2 separate regions of the Homo sapiens genome follow, and region 1 is linked to region 2. Evidence: fine-mapped expression QTL. A gene starts in region 2. The other region holds a variant in brackets. All regions are shown on one strand. Distances are between the middles of the regions. Region 1 overlaps ADAM7-AS1 (ADAM7, ADAMDEC1 and ADAM28 antisense RNA 1). Region 2 holds the start of ADAM28 (ADAM metallopeptidase domain 28).

What was found.
Region 1: its variant is fine-mapped to the expression of ADAM28 in whole blood (TOPMed, PIP 0.99).

The regions. Positions count from the first base shown.
Region 1 is chr8:24,358,536-24,369,506 of GRCh38, forward strand. All of the region lies in intron 3 of ADAM7-AS1 (ADAM7, ADAMDEC1 and ADAM28 antisense RNA 1), which reads right to left. It overlaps ADAM28 (ADAM metallopeptidase domain 28), which reads left to right. Exons shown (of 23, transcript NM_014265.6): 23 at 1-479. Among named protein-coding and RNA genes, the nearest start is that of ADAMDEC1, 20 kb to the right of the region's middle. The variant C/T (reference allele first, on the strand shown) is at 4,565.
Region 2 is chr8:24,289,570-24,300,540 of GRCh38, forward strand. It overlaps ADAM28 (ADAM metallopeptidase domain 28), which reads left to right and starts at 4,500. Exons shown (of 23, transcript NM_014265.6): 1 at 4,500-4,626; 2 at 10,405-10,508. The coding sequence starts at 4,581. ADAM7-AS1 (ADAM7, ADAMDEC1 and ADAM28 antisense RNA 1) reads right to left here. Exons shown (of 6, transcript NR_125808.1): 5 at 6,585-6,681; 6 at 6,245-6,488.

The DNA of each region.
Region 1 (10,971 bases), 69 kb after region 2:
GGAGAAAACACCTCTAACAAAATCTGTAGCCACGTTGGCACATCTGCCCTTGAATTCACTTTGTCTCTTTTGCTGCTTCCATAAAAAGGCTTTCCCTTGACAATGTTAGGCACTTTTTAGCAACTAGGCCTGGGTGGTCTGCTACAATGCCCAACACTTAATACAGTATCACTATTACTGTTAGTAGTATGCTAAGCGAATACTATTGTTATAAAAAAAATCCTAAGCATGAAAATTACGGTATACAATTTATTGTGAAGGCAACTTCTTGTGAACATTAAACGGTTTATCTCCTTCACCTCATATTAAAGTCCATACTCTTGGGATATATCTGACATCTCAATATTAAATGACTAAGATGACTAAGTCGTTTATGTTGCTCCCACCTCACACAAAGTTAAAACTATTTGTTACTTTAAATAGTTTGACAATGTTATTTTAAAATCTGGACAAATCACAAATATAAAATACTTATTTAATTTTCTTCTGTAAAAAGATGTATGCTTGGTCAGGCACAGTGGCTGATGCCTATAATCCCAGCACTTTGGGAGGCTGAGGTGGGTGGATCACGAGGGTCAGGAGTTCGAGACCAGCCTGGCCAAGTTGATGAAACCTCATCTCTACCAATAATACAAAAATTAGCCAGGCAGGATGGCGGGCACCTGTAATCCCAGCTCTCAGGAGGCTGAGGCAGGAGAATCACTTGAACCCAGGGCACAGAGGTTTCAGTGAGCCAAGATCGTACCACCGCACTCTAGCCTGGGTGACAGAGCAAGACTGACTCCACCCAAAAAAAAAAAAAAAAAGCAAAAAGAACAAAGCTGGAGGCATCACACTACCTGACTTCAAACAATACTACAAGGCTACAGTAACCAAAGCAGCATGGTACTGGTACCAAAACAGAGAGACAAACCAATGGAACAGAACAGAGGCCTCAGAAGTAACACCAGACATCTCCAACCATCTGATCTTTGACAAACCTGACAAAAACAAGCAATGTGTAAAGGATTCCCTATTTAATAAATGGTGTTGGGAAAACTGGCTAGCCATATGCAGAAAACTGAAACTGGACCCTTTCCTTACACCTTATACAAAAATTAACTCAAGATGGATCAAAGACTCAGACGTAAGACCTAAAACCATAACTCCAGAAGTAAACCTAGGCAATACCATTCAGGACATAGGCATGGGCAAAGACTTCATGACTAAAACACCAAAAGCAATGGCAACAGACGCCAACATTGACAAATGGGATCTAATTAAACTAAAGAGCTTCTGCACAGCAAAAGAAACTATCAGAGTGAACAGGCAACCTACAAAATGGGAGACAATTTTTGCAATCTATCCATCTGACAAAGGGCTAATATCCAGAATCTACAAAGAACTTAAATTTACAAGAAAAAAAAAATCCCCCATCAAAAAGTAGGTGAAGGATATGAACAGACACTTTTCAAAAAAAGATATTTATGCAGCCAACAAACTATGAAAAAAAGCTCATCATCACTGGTCATTTGAGAAACGCAAATTAAAACCACGATGAGATACAATCTCATGCCAGTTAGAATGGTGATCCTTAAAAAGTCAGGAAAACAACAGATGCTGGAGAGGATGTGGAGAAACAGGAACACTTTTACACTGTTGGGAGTGTAAATTAGTTCAACCATTGTGAAAGACAATATGGCAATTCATTAAGGTTCTAGAACCAGAAATACCATTTGACCAAGCAATCCCATTACTGGGTTTATACCCAAAGGATTGTAAATCATTCTACTATAAAGACATATGCACACGTATGTTTATTGTGATACTGTTCACAAAGCAAAGACTTAGAACCAACCCAAGTGCCCATGAATGATACACTAGATAAAGAAAATTTGGCACATATACACCATGAAATACCACACAGCCATAAAAAAGGATGAGTTCACGTCCTATGCAGGGACATGAAAACCATCATTGTCAGCAAACTAACAGAGGAACAGAAAACCAAACACCACATGTTCTCACTTATAAGTGGGAGTTGAACAATGAGAACACACGGACCCAGGGAGAGGAACATCACATACCGGGGCCTGTTGCGGGGTGGGGGAGTAGGGGAGGGATAGCATTATGAGAAATACCTAATGTAGATGATGGGTGGGTGGGTGCAGCCAACCACCATGGCACATGTATACCTATAGTAACAAACCTTCACATTCTGCACATGTATCCCAGAACTGAAAGTATAATTTTTAAAAAATTTAAAAAACAATATATGCTTAATATAGAAAGGTTGAGAAACAAGAGAAAGTACTAAGACAAAAATTTTTCCTAATCTCACCAAGTATGATTTCAATCAACACTTGGAAATATGACCTTTTCCTCTCTTTTCTGTCTGGTATATAAGTTAAGTATTAATTCAATATTTATGCTATTTGTATTATGGCTTTTAATTTTACTTAGTAATATGACACAAATCTATAAGAATATTATGCAGCCATCAATACTATTTTATTAATGAATAATGTTTTACTTAATATCTGATTCAACAATGAAATCTTTTTTCAAAAATGTTTATGGCTAAAATAATGCAGTGATGAACAATGGTGTATATACCATCTAAAGGCAGTTCTCTGTATCACAGTTCGGGTTCCTGGGCAAGCAGAATCTGAGATGGATTTTAGCAGCCAGGAAGTTTATTATGGAGGGCTTTCAGGTCAGGTCCCCTATTTGTTTAATGGAATGGGAGAAAGCAGGATTAGGCTGGAGGAGTTGGGAATGATGCTGCCTCAAAGAAGGCTTTAGCTGGCCCAGCCAGCCCTGAACCTGGGCTATCCTTCAGAATGAAGCCAAGTTGAGGCAAAAGGGAAAAGCTTTTACTCCCTCATGTCAACTAGTCACAGGTACAAATTGCTCTCAAAAGAGCTGTGACCTTGGGCAAGATGACTTTATTTAGTGAAAGCATTTTCCAGGTACAAATTGCTCTCAAAAGAGCTGTGACCTTGGGCAAGATGACTTTATTTAGTGAAAGCATTTTCCAAGGCAAGTTGATGGCTGTCTGCAGGTAGCACAGCCAACAATTGGGGGATAAGTTCTTCTGTGCTTAATGGCGACCTGTGCAGCCCAAAACAAGGCCTATTTTTTCTTTGAGTCTGGGTTTCATTGCATTGCTCAGACTGGTCTCCAAGTCCTAGACTCAACAATCCTCTTGACTCAGCCTTCCAAGTCACTGGGATTACACATGTGATCCACAACACCCAACGTTTATTACTTCTTATTTCCTTTGGATAGTACTCTATATGTTGGCTAGCCCCCTAAAAGTTTTCCAACTTTTTTGCTACACTTTGCAAAAATTTTTCTCTAGTAGGAATATGTATGAATTTAAATTTCCATTAGCAATTTATGAAACTGTTTCCACATAGGCATTCTCATTCTTAATACCTGCCTATCTTAACACCTTTCCTTGCTTAGAGGATTCCCACATTGCACATCTTGGAGATATAGCTCCTTTGCTATTTGCAGTGGCAACTGGAAATATTCTGCATGTTGTTACCAGATTCTTTTTATTTTTTCCTGGAGACAGGGTCTTGCTCTCCTCTCTTGCACCAGGTTGGAGTGCAGTGGCATGATCTTGGCTCACTGTGATTTCAACCTCCCAGGCTCAAGCAATCCTCCTACCTCAGCCTCCAAAGTAGCTGGAACCATAGGCATGCACCACCACACTCTAATTTTTGTATTTATTGTAGAGAAGGGGTCTTGCCATGTTGCCCAGGCTGGTCTTGAACTCCTGGGTTCAAGTGATCTGCCTGCCTTGGATTTCCAAAGTACTGGGATTCCAGGCTTGAGCTACAGTGCCTGGCCAACCCTCTTTTGCACCTATGACATAGTTATGGCCAAGGATCTACCTTTCAGATGTACCCTCCCAGAACTTTGAATCAGAAGTATGTAATATAAAGCAGAAATTACAGAGAATTATCTTTGGTGATGCACACTGTTATAATAAGGTTGAGTTCCTCAGGAAGTCTTGAGACTAGTGCCAATTGCTGGTTCAAGGCTGGTCTAGTGCAAGGAGTATCAGCAGTGTCAGCTGAGTGACTGGCAAGGGTGAGACAGACATTCTGTATTATTCAGCTCCACGATACAGGCTGGAATTCCTCATTGCATAGCTACCAAGTTTGGTTCTCCAGTCCTCATGTCGAGTCCTTCAGCTACCTAAAATCCTTTGTTTTAACTCAAATATTATGTTTTATTGTGGTAAAATATATATGACATTGAATTTACCATTTTAACCAGTCTTAAGAATACAATTTGGTGACATAAGTACATTCATTGTGCTGTGCAACCACCACCACCATCTATTTCCAGGACCCATTCGTCATTCCAAACAGAAACTCTATATCCATTAAACAATAAATCCCCGTTATGTTTTCCCCTCAATCTCTGGTAACCTCTACTCCACTTTCTGTCTCTGAATTTGCCTATTCTAGGTAGCTCCTATCAATGGAATTATACAGTATTTTTCCATCTATGTGTCTGACTTATTTCACTTTGCACCATGTCTTCAAGTTTCATCCATATTGTAGCA[C/T]GTATCAGCATTTCATTTATTTTTAAGGCTAAATAACCTAATCATCTTTTAATATATTTATTTTCTATTTGAGAGGGCTGGAGATAATTTCTGTTGCTCCATGTCATCATTCAAATTAACATTGTTTTTCTCCACTTTATACATTTTAATTTACAATTTTTTTTGATGGCAAACCTATTTTAAAATGGATAATGATACATACTTTATTCCTAGTATTTTAGAACCTCATTTAAATCAGTTATTGCTATTCTCTTCTTCATGAGAACCACATCCATTGTTTCTTTCTAAGCTTAGTTGACCAAGCACAGACAATGGCTCAATGTTGAAATCTTAGCTGTGCAATCCTGATGGGAACAACAATTTAAGGAAGTTCAGAAAATTATCTAAATGAAAAATGAAATGATGATGCTATGACTAGAGATAACGGTCCCCTCCTGATGTCCCAGTAGCTTTTGAGAAAGCAGGTATCAACTGCTGGACCGCAAAAGTTGCTCCATTTCTCATAGAGAAGACTCCAATGCACAGGCCAAGTGCTATGTCTCAGCAGATAACACTGTTCCCTTGTAAATCAACATGTGTTGCCAAATTGGCCTTGATCTCTCTAACTGCTGTGGAATAGCTCTGAGATTCGTGGGTCTCTTGAGACATGTTGTAAGTATAATTGAAATGGAGCCTGCAGGAGCCAGTTCCTGGCAAAACTCTCTCAGTTCTTTTGTGCCCATGGCAGGGCTGAGTAGATCCACTGGAAAGCTGCAGTCTCAGATAGGAAATAAGGGAACGAAAATGTAGCAGAAATATAAAGACAAGAGAATAAGAGAAAAGTCAGTTTTTGGTGCAGGATGGTAAGCCACACACAGAAAACAAAGTATAGATAGTCCTCCTGGCTCTGCCAAAAACTAGCTCTTTAGCCTTATGCAAATAATTTCAATTCTTTGATTTTACCAGTCTTAAGTATACAATCTGTACATTTACTCATCTATAAAATGAAATTAAAAATGTATGACTTGCCAATATTCAAACAGGATTTTTTTGTTCTTGTTGAGACAGAATTTTATTCTTGTTGCCCAGGCTGGAGTGCAATGGTGTGATCTCGGCTCACCGCAACCTCCGCCTCCTGGTTTCAAGCAATTCTCCTGCCTCAGCCTCCTGAGTAGCTGGGATTACAGGCACACACCACCACGGCTGGCTAATTTTTTGTATCTTTAGTAGAGGCAGGGTTTCACCATGTTGGCCAGGCTGGTCTCGAACTCCTGACCTCATGATCAACCCACCTTGGCCTCCCAAAGTGCTGGGATGACAGGCATGAGCCACTGCACCCTGCCCCAAAGAGGATTTTCTAAGAAACATGTAAGGGCAGCATGAAAATATAAAGAGAAGAGAGGGAAATGTCCATCATCTAGAAAGGCAAGTAGCACGTATCCATCAGTGCCTACCTGAAGGAGGACTCCGTTGTTGAGCTTGTCAGCACAGAGACCCTCTCTGAACAGTCTATTGCATCATATGTCTTTAAGCAGAAAGTAAGGTTTGGGGAAATAATTACTTGCTGTTTGTACATATTTCATTGGTGAGTACGTATTTCACTGGTGAGTTTTTTTTGAGACAACATCTCTCTCTGTTGCCCAGGCTGAAGTGCAGTGGCATGGTCGTGACTCACTGCAGCCTCGACCTTCTGGGCTCAAGTGATCCTTTCACCTCAGCCTCCAGAGTAGCTGCAACTATGGGCATGCACCACTACACCTGCCTAATTTTTAAATGTTTTTTAGTGACAGGGTCTCCCTGTTTCCCAGGCTGGTCTCAAGTTCCTGGGCTAAAGTCATCCTCCTGTCTCAGCCTCCCCAAGTGCTGAGATTACAGGCATGAGCTGCTGTGCCCAGCCGAGTCTTTTTTCCTTGGTCTTTTATTCTCCTGATGTGCTTTTAGAATTTTCTCCGTAATCCTATTCGGTTTTCTCATCTTATATAATTAAGTTGAATCTCAGTCAGAACTTCTGGGCCAAATAAAATACTGTCCTAGATCTGAGGCTGCATTGTGCAAAGACCCTGGATTCATATTTTGGGGAAATTAACATGGACTGAATTCATACAATTTTTAGAAAATAAAGTCATAGCCAATTTCAAATTTGATTATTTCTTAAAGTAAGGATATCATAAGGTAATAACAAAAGTACACAGTAGCACATTCTGATTTATGCAAGTTTGTGTGTATTTTTGTGTGTTCGTATGTGTGCATGTATAATTTCACTTAACATTTATGACAGTCTTGCACAGGAATCTTACTTCCTTTCACACAACCACACTGTCTGCAGCAAAACTATTTTGCACTGAGAAGCACATTTAATACTATATTATTAAATATGAGAATTCTATTTTATCTCCAGCAACAAATTCTTCTAGGCAATGTTTCCAGTGAAAGTGTATCTGAAGTTGCAGTCAAATCTTTTTTTAATTTTTTCATTTCCAACTTTTATTTTAACTTCAGAGGTACATGTGCAGGATGTGCAGGTTTGTTACATAGGTAAGTAAACAGGTGCCATGGTGGTTTGCTGCAGATCATTCCATCACCCAGGTATTAAGATCAACATCCATCAGCAATTCTTTCTGATCTTCTCCTCCTCCCAACCCCCTCTGACAGGCCCTAGTGTTTGCTGTTCCCCTGCATATGTCCATTTGTTCTCATCATTTAGCTCCCACATATAAGTGAGAACATGTCATATTTGGTTTTCTGTTTCTGTGTTAGTTTGCTTAAGATAATGTGCTCCAGTTCCATCCATGTCACTGCAAAAGACATGATCTCATTTCTTTTTATGGCTGCATAGTATTCCATGTTGCTTATATACCACATTTTCTTTATCCAGTCCATCACTGATGGGCATTTAGGTTGATTCCATGTCTTTGCTATTGTGAATGGTGCTGCAATGCAGACAGTGGATGTGTCTTTTTAACAGAACAATTTCTATTCCTTTGGTTATGTACTTAGTAATGGGATTGCTGGGTCAAAAGGTATTTCTGCCTCTAGGTCTTTGAGCAATCGCCACACCCTCTCTTACAACAGTTGTACTAATTTATACTCCCACCAATAATGTAAAAGCATTCCTTTTTCTCCACAGCTTTGCCATCATCCATTGTTGACTTTTTAGTAATAGCCATTCTGCTGCAGTCAAATCTTATGCCCCTTGATTTTCTACTCCTGAAAATCCGTTCTCATTTTTCCCCATTCTTGTTACTAGTGATTAGCAGAGAGCCTGGGAAATGGTAAGCACTCAATAAATCAACTAACAAAAGTCTTCCACCAAGATTCTGAGCTTAATACATTGTGTAATTTACACTTATCTGGTTGTTTTCTGTAATTCTGCAATACAAACATTTACAAAGTCTCCATTTACTAAGTGGACACTGGAGCTAGAAGGATTAACCTCTTTCCCTGCCGTCCAGGGATTCTCATCCTAGCTCTAGAGACTGACATAAATATAGAAATAAATAATCACTAAAATAAATTGCTAAACTATGAGAACAAGAAAGTACAGAGGAAATGTTTATCAAGAGAAGGCATGAGAAGTTTCTCAGAGGAGGTGCCGTTTAAATCTTGAACTCTAGGCAATTTATCAGATCTATAAAGGAAAAAGAGAAAAAAAAGTCTTCTAGAAAATAACGGAGTTAAATAATAGCCTTGCTAAGTCATGAATCCACAAGGGCCATGACATGTTCAGGGAACTGCAAGCAGATCATCAAGACTATGGAAAACCAAAAATTGTTATTTTTGAATACGTTTAGGTATTTATATATACCATGTTTCATCAAAGATACATACATATTTGTGCATACACAAACTTAGGAGATTTAGAAAAGTATAACACCCCCCAAAAATGAACATTTAAGAAAATCAGAAAGCAAGAAAGTTCTAGAAACCATAAAGCCATGGGTCAGATGAGACTTGTGAAATTTAAAATATACGGCCCTACGTGTTTGATAAATATGAGCTCCAAACTGTACTCCAAACTATCTAAGAATAAAAAAGTAAACAAGAAAAGTAAACAGGATTTATATGAGACTCACAGTGTCTATAAAGAACAAACATACCATCATGGAAGACAGCAAAACCACATAAACACAACAAAATCAGCCAAGTGAATAAAAATTAATGGTTAAGACTGAGCTGTACATACCATCATGGGAGACAGCAAAACCACATAAACACAACAAAATCAGCCTAGTGAATAAAAATAAAAAAGACTGAGCACAGCTCTTTTTGCTTCTGAGACCTAAAATTTGTACTCAGGATGGTGTTGCTGTTGTATCCAACTAGAGAACCTGTCTGTACCTTTTGCTTGATTCCCCACCCTGGGAGCCCCTCAGTACTTCATGGCTACAGACTCTTGGCTGCCTGCCCTAACCACACTGCAGTCACACACACAGTCATAAATAAACCCCAGCAGGAAGCGAGACATAGGCTCAAATTAGAACACCCTCTCAACCTTTTCATCAATAACTTTCAGCACTGCTCAGGGTAATGGAAAAATTGTTTCTAACTGAGCTGCATATCATGAGTTTGGAAGCCAAGTAATAGCTTGCCTATTCATATCATCACTGAACAAGTTATTTCACCTACTTTTAGAATACTTGAAATACTTTTTTAATATAGATCATAGCATCTTTAAATTTTCCTTCGAGGGAATTCAGTATCTGAAAACACAGTGGCTTTAGTGACATTGGTTACAGTTTTATCACTGCCTAATCATTAATTATAATTTTTAAAGGTTCTCAGTTGATTATTTGAGGAACTGTATTTTCCTTACAGAATAATTCCTAGGTATATTGGATGATCTTTTCCGGTGACTAAAGTATATGTAGGGTGTTTGTTACAATATTTGTTCTCTTATCCTTTAATTATTTTGTTTGTAATCAATCCAGCATGGAGTAAAAGAAATAAGAGTAAAGTAATATGTATATTTTTTATTTTCTAAAAATATTGAAAGAGTTCTTCATGTAATAATGGTTCTTGACAAAATGTATCAAGAACCATTTATACCAACCACTTTATACTAACAAAATCTGAACACAGAGGGAAGGAATCAAGATGTCAGTATTTTAATAAGTTCTAGAGATGAATCTAATGTATACTCTTGATTAAGAAACAAAGATTTAATGGAAATATCTCGGCTCTAGTTGGCTACCAACATCTTATGCCTACTATTATCTTAAGAGATTAATTGTATGCTGTAAGTATTGATCTTGATTATTCATGCAAATTAGTATCCGAAATAGCAAAAGTAATTTGATTATAAAAAATTCAAATTCAAAAATATATGTTTGTAATGTCAACTGTTTATCCAAAGAATTTTCAAATTCTAAACATAGGATATTTAACTGGTGGTACTGCTAAAGCCTCTGACTTTACCTGGAATAAAATTATTATGTTTTGTTTTTATTACAGTAGTTTTTGGGGAACAGGTGATGTTTCATTACATGGATAAGTTCTTCAGTGGTAATTTCTGAGATTTTGATGCACCTGTCACATGAGCAGTGTACACTGTACCCAATATGTTGTCTTATCCCTCACTCCCCTCCTAACCTCCTCCAAGTTCCCCAAGTCCCTTATATCATTCTTATGCCTTTGCATCCTCACAGCTTAGCTCCCACTTAGAAGAGCCTAGGATATTTGGTTTTTCCATTTCTGGGTGACTTCACTTAGAATAATGGCCTCCAGCTCCATCCAAGTTGCTTTAAAAGACATTATTCCTTTTTATGGTGGAGTGGTGTTCCATGGTGTACATACATCACATTTTCTTTATCCACTCATTGGTTGATAGGCATTTAGGTTGGTTCTTTATCTTTGCAATTGTGAGTTGTGTTGCTATAAACATATAAACATGCACATGCACATGTACTTGTGCCTTCTTCACAAAATGACTTCATTTCCTTTGGGTAGATAGCCAGTAGTGGGATTGCCGGATCCAGTGGTAGTTCTACAAAGTAAAATGTTTAAAAAAGGCAAATAATCTTGAAAAGATCAGCTTGTAAATAATGAGTAAAAGAAAATATTCAGACTTGAGATTATGATTTCTCTCCTGGTGGTTGCTGAAAAACTTTATATAAAAATATCAAGCATAAATAAGAAAATATTCATGACTATAGCAGAATCCAAAGCATTTTGGGAAACTCATAATAGGTGCAGCACTCTGTTCTTTCATTCATTAGAGGTTCATGCCTATGACCATGCACAAAAGACATGGCTTTTTAAAAATAGGCTATATTTTAGAGCAGTTTTAGGTACTTAGAAAAAAATTGAGCAGAAAGCAGAGATTCTTCCCTGCTCCCACACACAGCTTCCCCCACTATCAACATCTCATACCAGGATGATATACTTGATCATTGATGACTCTCCTTTGTTCCATTATTTTCATCCAATGC
Region 2 (10,971 bases):
TCACGACTACAAGAGAATTGAAAAGAGCCGAAGAACAAGTGCCAATTTAAAATTCCACATGGATCAGCATGCAGACTGTCATCATTCACCATTTCCAGGGCACTCCCCTCCTCAAGAAGCAAGCAGGAAGGTTATACTTCTCATTCGATCCCATCAGTGGTGACCATTCACCACAGCGTCAAAGTCAAGCACAAATACTTAGCAGGATATCTTCCCATTCTCTCAGGCATTCTTTGCTCCAACAATTCCAAACACTACCAGCCATAAACTAATGTGCTATAATATATTGTCCTTATTTATTCTCATAATTCTTTTTTTCCAACTTTTATTTTAGATTCAAGGAGGTACATATCCATCTGTTACATGGATATATTCCGTGATGCTGAGGTTTAGGGTACAAATAATCCTGCCACCCGGGTACTCAGCATAGTATCCAATAGCTAGGTTTTCAGCCTTTTCCCCTCTTCCCTCCCTTCTCCAGCAGTACCCAGTGTCTATTGTTGTCATCTTTATGTCCATGGGTACACAGCGTTTAGCTCCCATGTATAATTGAGAACATGCAGTATTTATAGATTTTGGATATTAGACTTTTGTCAGCTGTGCAGTTTGCTTATATTTTCGCCCGTTATGTAGGTTGTTGGTTTGCTCTGCTGATAGTTTCTTTTTGCTGTACAGAAGCTCTTTAATTTAATTAGGTCCCACTTGTCCATTTTTGTTTTCATTGCAATTGCTTTTGAGGACTTAAGTCATAAATTGTTTCCAGGGCCAATGTCCAGAATGTCATTTCCTAGGTTTTCCATAGTTTGAGGTCTGACATTTAAATCTTTAATCCATCTTGAGTTAATTTTTGTATATGGTGTAAGGTACCGGTTTTCTGTTTCTGCATTAATTCACTTAGGTTAATGGCCTCTAGGTGATCCATGTGCTGCAAAGAACACAATTTAATTCTTTTTTATAGCTGCATAGTATTCCAAGGTATATATGTACCACATTGTATTTATCCATTCCACCACTGATGGGCACCTAGCTTGATTCCATGTCATTGCTCTTGTGGATAGTACTGTGATGAACATAAGCATGTGTCTTCTCGGTAGAATAATTTATTTTCTTTTGGCTATATATCCAGTAAACGGATTGTTCGGTCAAATGACAGTTCTGTTTTAATTTCTTTGAGAAATCTCCAAACTGCTTTCCAGAGTGGCTGAACTAATTTACATTCCTACCAACATTGTGTGTTTCCTTTTCTCTGTGGCCTCACCAGCATTTGTTATTTTTTGACTTTTTAGTAATAGCCATTTTGGCTGGTGTGAGTTGGTACCTCATTGTTTTGATTTGCATTTCTCTGATAATTAGTTATGTTGGGCAATTTTTTCACATGTTTTTTTAACTGCTTGTATTTCTTCTTTTGAGAAGTGTCTGTTCATTTCTTTTGACCCTTTTTTTTTTTTTTTTTCTTTTTTTTTGAGACGGAGTCTTGCTCTGTCACCCAGGCTGGAGTGCAGTGGCGCAGTCTTGGTTCACTGCAACCTCCTCCTCCGGGTTCAAGTGATTCTCCTGCCTCAGCCTCCCAAGTAGCTGGGACTACAGGTGCCTACCACACGTGGCTAATTTTTGTATTTTTAATAGAGATGGGGTTTCACTATGTTGGCTAGACTAGTCTCGAACTCTTGACTTCAGGTGATCTGCCCACCTTGGCCTCCCAGAGTGCTAGGATTACAGGCATGAGCCACTGCACCCACCCTTTTGCCCATTTTTAAATGAGGTTACTTATCTCATGCTTGTTCAATTGTTTAAGTTCTTTATAGATTCTGGATATTAGACTTTTGTCAGCTGTGTAGTTTGCTCATATTTTCACCCGTTATGTAGGTTGTTGGTTTGCTCTGCTGATAGTTTCTTTTTGCTCTACAGAAGCTCTTTAATTTAATTAGGTCCCACTCATCCATTTTTGTTTTCATTGCAATTGCTTTTGAGGACTTAAGTTATAAATTGTTTCCTAGGGCCAATGTCCAGAATGTCATTTTCTAGGTTTTCCATAATTTGAGGTCTTACATTTAAATCTTTAATCCATCTTGAGTTAATTTTTGTATATGGTGTAAGGTAGGGGTCCAGTTTTATTCTTCTGCATATGGCTAGCCAGCTATCCCAGCACCATTTATGAAATAGGGAGTCCTTTTCCCAGGACTCCTGCCACCAGGATGCACTCCCTGCCCTGTTTGGTGTAGACCTCTGACTTCTATTGATAAATCTATTGTAACACTAAACACCTTGTGATATTGTGATCATTTATAGGTGGTACTCACTCTGTGCAATTTTATGGTAATTGAACTTATCTTTGTCAGATTGTGAACATCTCAATGAAAGTGATTGTGTTTTTTGTTTGTTTGTTTGTTTGAGACACTGTCTCGCTCTGTTGCCCAGGCTGGAGTGTGTTGTTGCAATCTCAGCTCGCTGCAGCCTCTGCCTCCTGGGTTCAAGCAATCAAGCAGTTCTCCTACCTCAGCCTCCTGAGTAACTGGGATTACAGGTGACCACCACCACACCCAGCTAATTTTTTTTTTTTAGTAGAGATGGGGTTTCACCATGTTGGGCAGGCTGGTCTCAAATTCTGATCTCAGGTAGTCTGTCTGCCTCAGCCTCCCAAAGTGCTGGGATTACAGACATGAGCCACCACTCCCGGCCATGATTGTGTTTTTTCAACTGCAATCTCAGTGTCTGACACATAATAGCTGTAAGTAAAATTACGTTGAATTAATGGAGAAAAAATATGTAATAATTAAAAGTTGAAGTATCCTTTCTGTTCCCTGGAAAAGACAAAGCAATGGAACTTGGGTTGAAAAGGCAAGAAATCTGTGAATCGCAATCCTGATGGTTAAAATGCTCAGTAACTAGACTCAAAAATTCCTTTGTGGTTTTAGTTGATGACTGTATAATCATTTGGAGACATCAATAATCACTGTAATCCCTCTAGTATGAGAATGTGTTTCAGAATCTGTAAAATGATGCATGATTTTAGTGGACTAGGACTAGGTTTTGTGGTAATAACTGGTCCTCAGCGTAATTTCTATTCCTTAGGAATTTCATAATTATTTCTATTCTCCCAGAATCTTTTCAATAGAAATGATACTGGGAGTACAAGTCAGCTAAGCCAAGGGAAAGCATTAGAGTATATGACTAAGAGCCCAGACAACACATAGTTCAGATTCCACTTCTACCACTTACTGGATAGGTGACTTTATCTGCTTAATCTTCTTAATCTATACAATGAGGGGACAACTGATTCTTAATCTTTTGAATTTTGCCTTTAAAACCCCAAATTTTCACCTGCAAAATGATTGTAAATGCATAATACATGAGTATCATAAAGACTAATAAAATAACAAGTACAGTAGATTTAGGAGAGTACCTGTATTAGTCCATTTTCATACTATCACGAAGAAATATCTGAGACTGGGTAAATTAAAAAGAGGTTTCATGGCCTCACAGTTTCACATGGCTGGGGAGGCCTCACTCTCATGGTAGAAGGTGAAGGAGGAGCAAAGACACATCTTACATGGAGGCAGGCAAAGAGAGCCTGAGCAGGGGAACTGCCCTTTATAAAATCATTAGATCTTATGAGACTTATTCACTATAATGAGAACAGCATGGGAAAAGCCCGCCCCTTGATTCAATTATCTCCCACTGGGTCCCTCCCACAACACATGGGGATTATGGGAGCTACAATTCAAGATGAGATTCAGGTAGGGACACAACCAAACCCTATCAGTACCTAAAACTTAATAAGCAGCTCAGTTGATATTAGTTATTTTATTGGTTATAAGTATGATTTTTAGACATGCCCAGTTTAGCCTTACTACCACCAGTGACAGATCCTAAAATTGTATCCTTTGGGTCTTGAATCCTTCTTCCACACTCCTCATTGCCAGTTATGACACAAATACCCCCAAGGATCTAAAAATTATTGTGCTTATATTGTCAGACATTCTTATTTCAGGATAGTTCAAACTTCCTGAGAGTACACTTGTGTGAGGAATAGAACATAAAATAATGGAAAAGAGAATGCTATATAGTAATTAGGTTGAATTAGAAATTGCTTTACATAACCACATTATGTATGTGGGGGAAAAATAACATTCTTAATAACTTTTTTCCTACAACTGTATATATATAAAAATATATTTAAACATATATTTATATATCATATCCGTAATGTAAATAAATGTCTAGCATGTTTTTCAAGACTCATTAATGCAGTTGCCTCTTTCCTTGTAGCTTATCTGGCTATAGTAATATGTTGGAAATGTACTACTTTGGAGTGGGGAGTATGGCAAAGGAGAGCAAAACAATAGTTCAGATCAAGTAATCTTAGAGCCAGGAGGCAGCCAGGACTTCCGCCTGCTGGGCCATTGTTGCAGGACCACAGCTTCGAGGTTGCGCAACACCTTTAGTAAACACTTCCTGAATCAGAGACAAGAATGAACCAGGGAGTTTCATTCTGTCTCACTGGAGAGGAGGCAGGGACAGACCCAGCAGCACCCACCTGAGCGAGAAGAGCAGACACCGTGCTCCTGGAATCACCCAGCATGTTGCAAGGTCTCCTGCCAGTCAGTCTCCTCCTCTCTGTTGCAGGTACATATTTAGCTCTTTTTCAGGTTCTATTGAATGCATTAGCGAACTTTTCATAGTCTCCTAATAGTTTTATTGTATAAACTATTTTGACTTTTTTCTTTTTCTTTTTTCTCAATCAATCTTACTAACCAGTTGGGCTGGTTTTAACCTGTTGTTTGGGGGCTGCGAGTGATACAAAGACAATGTTAAAAAGAGGCAACAAGAGGTCTTGAACCAATATGTATGCATCTCATCTGAGAATATACAGAAATAAAAGGGACAATTTCATACAGCACAATTTAAATCATGAATATGATTTTTGACTGAAAAAGTGGAATTCATCAAAACCCAGCTTGTCATTTAAAGAATGGTAAAGATGTGGCAGATTTATTTATTTATTACTGTGTACAAGGCTTAGGAAAATACCTACTATTATTATGGGAGCCAGTTTGGCTCTTTCTGTTTGAGTGTATATTTTTGTATTTACTCATTATTAGTAATAATACGTGTGACTAACTGGAAATAATTAATATTTTTTATTTATAAGGTACTGTGATATTACTTAACAAAATATCTCTGTTAAGCTTAAATTGATAATTTACTTCTATTTTGCTGATTATACCAAACATTTAAAAATTTGAAAGGAGAAAAATACTACTTCCTAACAGGAAATTATGTCTAGCAAGTCTCTCAATTTCTGGTAAATTCTCTAATTAGACTTTGGTTAAATTAGATTGGGTATTGTGATTCTTCAGCTTCTATTTCCAGAGCTTATTTAACTCAGCACATGAACTGCAGTGCCTCGAATTCCTCCCAGTAAACCTGTTCTTGGGTCTTAGAATGTTTGCTGGGACCTGGGGATGGGAACAGATTATCAACTAGAGGTATGGGCTTAGGGAGGGAAAAGTTTTCCTTGTCCATGCACCCTCTTAGTACTTTGTTGCTAAAAATGATTTTCCTGTGTCTCACCTGTTTCTGATTTGTTTTCAAGACTTATAAAAATTTCACTTAACCTAATATCTTTAAATATCGAATTATTTTCCTTTTGTTTCTGTGTATTTTTGCTTTATATAATATGTACCTATATCTGAACTGAACCTTTTCCCACTGTGCTGTGATCCTCTTCATCTCTAATGCCTTTTGCTTTGATACCTATTTTGTCTGATGTGAACGTGTTACACCAGCTTTCTTTTGGTAAAATAAGCCTGAAATATTAAAAATATATATAAAACTCATGCCAGGCATTTAACATTGACCTGAAATTCCTACTTTTTGAGGCAGACTTAATAGAAATGTTTTTTTCTCTCCGTTCTCCAAAAATGCTATCACCAAGAGCTTTTCCAGAACCCCCTCTAAGCTGAAATACAAGAACTGCTTGGGCACTAGCTTAGTTGAAGAGCGTAAAGATCAAGCTGGATCCATTAACAGAGTCACATGGCTAACACTGGGGCCCATGCACATTACAGTCCTTTTGTGCAACTGGGCACACTAATCAGTTCTGCTGCCCCGACGGTGCATGTATAACATGGCACCAAGAGATGCAACTTCCTCTGATGTCAACTCTAAAAGTGTGATGTCACCCCTCCTTTAACTTCTAGCTTCTATTTTTAAGGGTGTCTTTTTGCCACTGAACTATCCCTGTTATGATTCCCATTTGGGTTGCCTTTCTAGTCAGAATATAAGAAGTAAAGCAATTTTCATTTCCCAGTTCTTCCTGTTTGTTCTCTGCCCCCATCATCAAAGCAATACATATGTGCCCCTCTGACCATGACTTCTGCCCAGTCCCCAGATGGTTGAAATAAAAGAAAGAGATGTAAAATAAGGCTGGTTGTGTGCAGTGAACTTCACAATCCCGAGAAAAAATTGACTTATGGGATTTCATCCTAGGAAAAGGAAAAACAAATATTTAAAAGGATGTGACAGGTGTTTGCGGGGTGAAGATGTAAATGATTGCATCAACAAAGGAGAAAGGTGCTTACCTTATTACAGCAGAATACTCAGGGGGTACAGCACTTTTTGAAATTATTTTATTTCAAACTACCAGTTCTTCCTTGCCTTTATAAGGTAACTGGAAGACTGAAAAGAAAATATACAGTTTAATCTAAATAGTCAAAATAACAGACCTAATAGAAATGCAGTTTTTTCCCTTTTGTTTGTACTCACTTTTAATGCATGAAGTTTAAAACCACAAGATGGTTTGAGGAGATGCAGAGAATCCCAGGACATAAGTCAATATCCTTGTGTAAACCCTAATTCAGCGTTTAATATGATGTGTTCAGTTTGGAAAGAAGACATTTCTTTGAACAGTTTCAAACACATTTGAACGAAAATGAAAATGTCAATATTACATACTCATGTTCCCATTTCCAAAATGACCCCAAACACATGAACAAATAATGTAGCAATCCAGACTAATGTCTCTCATATTAACGTTGTTAATGAGCTTTGGCTTTTCTAAGACTCAAAACAGTCAAAAATAATTATCCCATCTAAACCAAAATAACAGTTTTCTTTTTCCTGATCTGGTTTTGCTAGTCAAGACTAATCCAGTGTGTGAGTTCTGTGGGAGAGAGAAGGCAAGTATTAAAATGAATTAGTAAAAACATATTGTGTTACACCTTGGATTTGTGTAATCCCTGGATGGCAGTTAGTTGTGTTTGTTCCTCAGGCTTCAAAAATAATTAACGTGATGTTATTCAGTGGGGAAGACGCTGCACCATTTCCATTAAACTTAAGGATGGATGAGCTAAACAATATTTAGGTCTGTTACATCCCTACAATGGCTGTGTAATTTGTTGTATTCCAGATCCCATTATTTCAGGGACTTCTAGGTTTCCAGAAAATAAGAGCCTTTAAGAGAAATTCCATTTAGTTTCTTTAGAGAATATATGGAGTGACAGGAGTTTGGAAGGAGCTGGAATTCCATTCACTTCAAACTGAAGAGATTGAGAGGTTGCCAATGATTTCTAAAAGAAATGTTGTGGGTTTTTTTTTGTTGTTGTTGTTGTTTGTTTTATTTTGCTTTGTTTTTGGTTTCCATTTGGAAGTGTTCGGCCACCAAAAAGTTGGAAATAAATTACATAACTTACATATTTTAAGCCCATATTTAAGAGCCAGTTTGCAATTTCTAATTTCATGAAACATTGGGATTCAGATACTAACTAGAAGCATAGAGGTCAGGGTGCATGTGAGAGAAAATTTGTGTTGGCTAGATGAGCCTGTTTTCCTTCTTACCATTTCTGAATGGTGCTGAGAAGGAAACTCACTTCATTTTCTGCTTTTATACAAAAAATCGGGAACGTAGCTATTATTTTATTCCACGAAGGCAGCTTGGACTACTATTTCCTGTTAGAATCATGTGTGTTCTAATATAGCATTTAAAAAGATTTATGTTGGCTGCAACATTGGTGAAATTTGGCTTCTTGAACTCTCTATCTTAACAAGACTAATTGCATTGATTAGCTACTGTAATGTACCAGGCAGCACGTGGGTGCCTTATGGTATGCTTGTTTTGTGTCCCTGAATTAAGGAGGCAGCAGGGAATTGTGTCAATATCATCAGTTAATTTCTGGCAGGAGTAATTTTCTTACCTCTTGGCATCTTAGTGTTTCAAAATAATTACAATAATTAGAAAAATTTTAACTCAGAAAAAGAATCATCAATTTTTCTTTAGGTTTTTGAACTTATGTTTCAAAAATTTTTTATAATTGATGTTATTCTTTTCCTTTACCAAAAGTTAATTTAATAGAAATAAAAGACGCCCAGCGATTACCTCTGTGACAGCAAGAAATGAGGAACTGAAGAACCCCGTGATGTTGTTCTTGAAGTGTGACAATGTAATGAGGCTTATTTTATCACATTGGATCAGAATTCAGTTATCCTAATGATCACTGACTCTTGAAAGAGGTTATAGGGGATTCTGTACTTGTATGCATAAATCATAAACCACTTGAACTAGCTTTAGAAACCATTTAATTGGCGTCCTTTTTTCAAACTATTTAAAGACTCAAACCAAATAAAAAAAATAAGGTATTCTAATGTCAGTGCCATGGCTTTAAGTAATTTTGAATTTTTTTTTAGAGTAACTCTTACACCACTGAAAGAAAAGATAGTTCATTACTTTAACACCCCATTTTTGACTCAAAGAGTTCTTAGCTGGTTTAAACCCTTTTTCTGTTCTTCAAAGTTAAATGTAAGTGACTCTTGAGTCGTTAAATGAATTAAAGTCATTCTCGAGTAATTTTTAAAAAACGCTGTTTTTTGAAAGTTTATGCTTTAGTTTCTGAAGAAAACTTTAAACAATGTTTTGCTCTGTGGGAAGTGACTGGAGTAAGTGCACAGTCCTCCTAGATAAGCAAGGAATAATACTTATTAAGTGCCTCATCTATGTTTGTTAAAAGATCAACCACAGTAACATAAATGTATCTCACCATAGAACTTAAGATTTGAGTACTTTAATGAGCTGGCATTACCTTTAGAGACCCTCCTAGTCCTTACTCAGAGAAGAGAAAAAAACCTTTTCAGTTTTAGTCTTAGAAAGTTGTAGAGTTAGGCCCCATTCTGCTACTGCAGTCTACATTTTGGTTAAGCCTGTAGCCACCTGTAGCAGCTAAGGAGCAGGTCTATCGACTATATACAGAGCAGAGACTAGACCACATGGGCAAATCAAAAAGAAAATAGAAAATCTAATGTTAGCTTCGAGAAAATTGAATCTCTCTCTCCAAAATGACTTCTAGGCCAGGTGCTGTGGCTCATACCTGTAATCCCAGCACTTTGGGAGGCCGAGCCAGGAGGATTGCTACAGCCTGGGATTTCAAGACCAGCCTGGGCAACATAGCAAGACTACTTCTCTAATAGAAAAAAAAAAAAAAAGCCAGGCATGGTGGTGCACACCTGCAGTCCCAGCTACTCTGGAGGCTGAGGTGGAAGGATGGCTTGAGCCCAGGATGTTGAGGCTGCAGTGAACCCTGTTTGTGCCTCTGCACTCCAGCTTGGTGACAGAGTGAGACATTGTCTCAAAATACAATAAAACAAAATGACTTCTAAAGACAACATGGAGAGGAGCATTTAAAATGCAGATAGGTTGGATCAAATCACTTTTCAGTTCTCTTTCAATATGACTGCAGGCTCAAAAAAGTCCTTCCAGGCCAGTGATTCTGTTTGAATTATCTGCTTCTCTAATTTTCATTTTTTAAATGTTCTGTATGCAAAAATAAGGTTTTTCTGTACTGCTTATGCCAGCTCATTCTATGAACCTAGTATTGGAGCCTTTTCTTACTGTGACATAGTTTTTTTTTATTAGTATAGAATATTGCTGTTTTCAAATCCAAGAAAAATAGAATAAAAATTGTGCACATTAGTTATTTTATTTTTCTAACATTGTATGGTTTCCAGTGCTTCAACCCAATTTTTCTGGGACTGATTCGCTTCTCAGAGGATTACTTTCGCTTCTATCTTCACTTCTTTTTGCCTGAGCTGTTGCTATTTCCCTGCACTGCAGGATCAAAGATAAGAAGTGGGAAAATCCAAAAGAAATACTTTCTCTAAATACAGTAACACCTGTAAACTTTTAGTGGGGAAGGATCTGAAGATATAGGCTAAAGTAAAACTTTAAGAGGAAAGAGTAGCTTTCTGAGGTTGTTGCTCTCTTCTGGTGTCAGCACATTAATCACTCTGACATTCATCACTTCAGGCTTCTGTGTGTGGCATCGTTCATTGGGAATGCAGTAAGGATGGCCTTTACTGACCAGCCTACTTCAGTTCTACCTGGATAAGTCTTTTCTTTTTCTTTTTTCTCAGTAAGTGCTATAAAAGAACTCCCTGGGGTGAAGAAGTATGAAGTGGTTTATCCTATAAGACTTCATCCACTGCATAAAAGAGAGGCCAAAGAGCCAGAGCAACAGGTACAGCTTTTGATTTATCAAAGGATCTTGATTTGAGATACATATATACACACATATATATATCTATCTATGATGAGAGATAGATATGGGATTTATACATGTATGTTTATATATGTGTGTGTGTGTATGTGTGTGCCTGTGTGTTTCAAGTGGAATTTGTGATGTTTTCAGCAATTACACCTTGGAGTTAAATAACAATGATTATATTTGTATTTGTTTTTGACCTTTTAAAAAATCTTCACTATAACCCAAAGTTATATTATTAACCTCATTCTACAAATCAAGTTTCTGAGAAGTGAAAGAAACTGTCCAAGGTTAAAAAGAGTAAATTTGTTTTTTGTTTTTTGTTTTTTTTTCCAGACAGAGTCTCGCTCTGTCGCCCAGGCTGGAGTGCAGTGGTGTGATCTTGGCTCACTGCAAGCTCCGCCTCCCAGGTTCACGCCATTCTCCGCCTCAGCCTCCC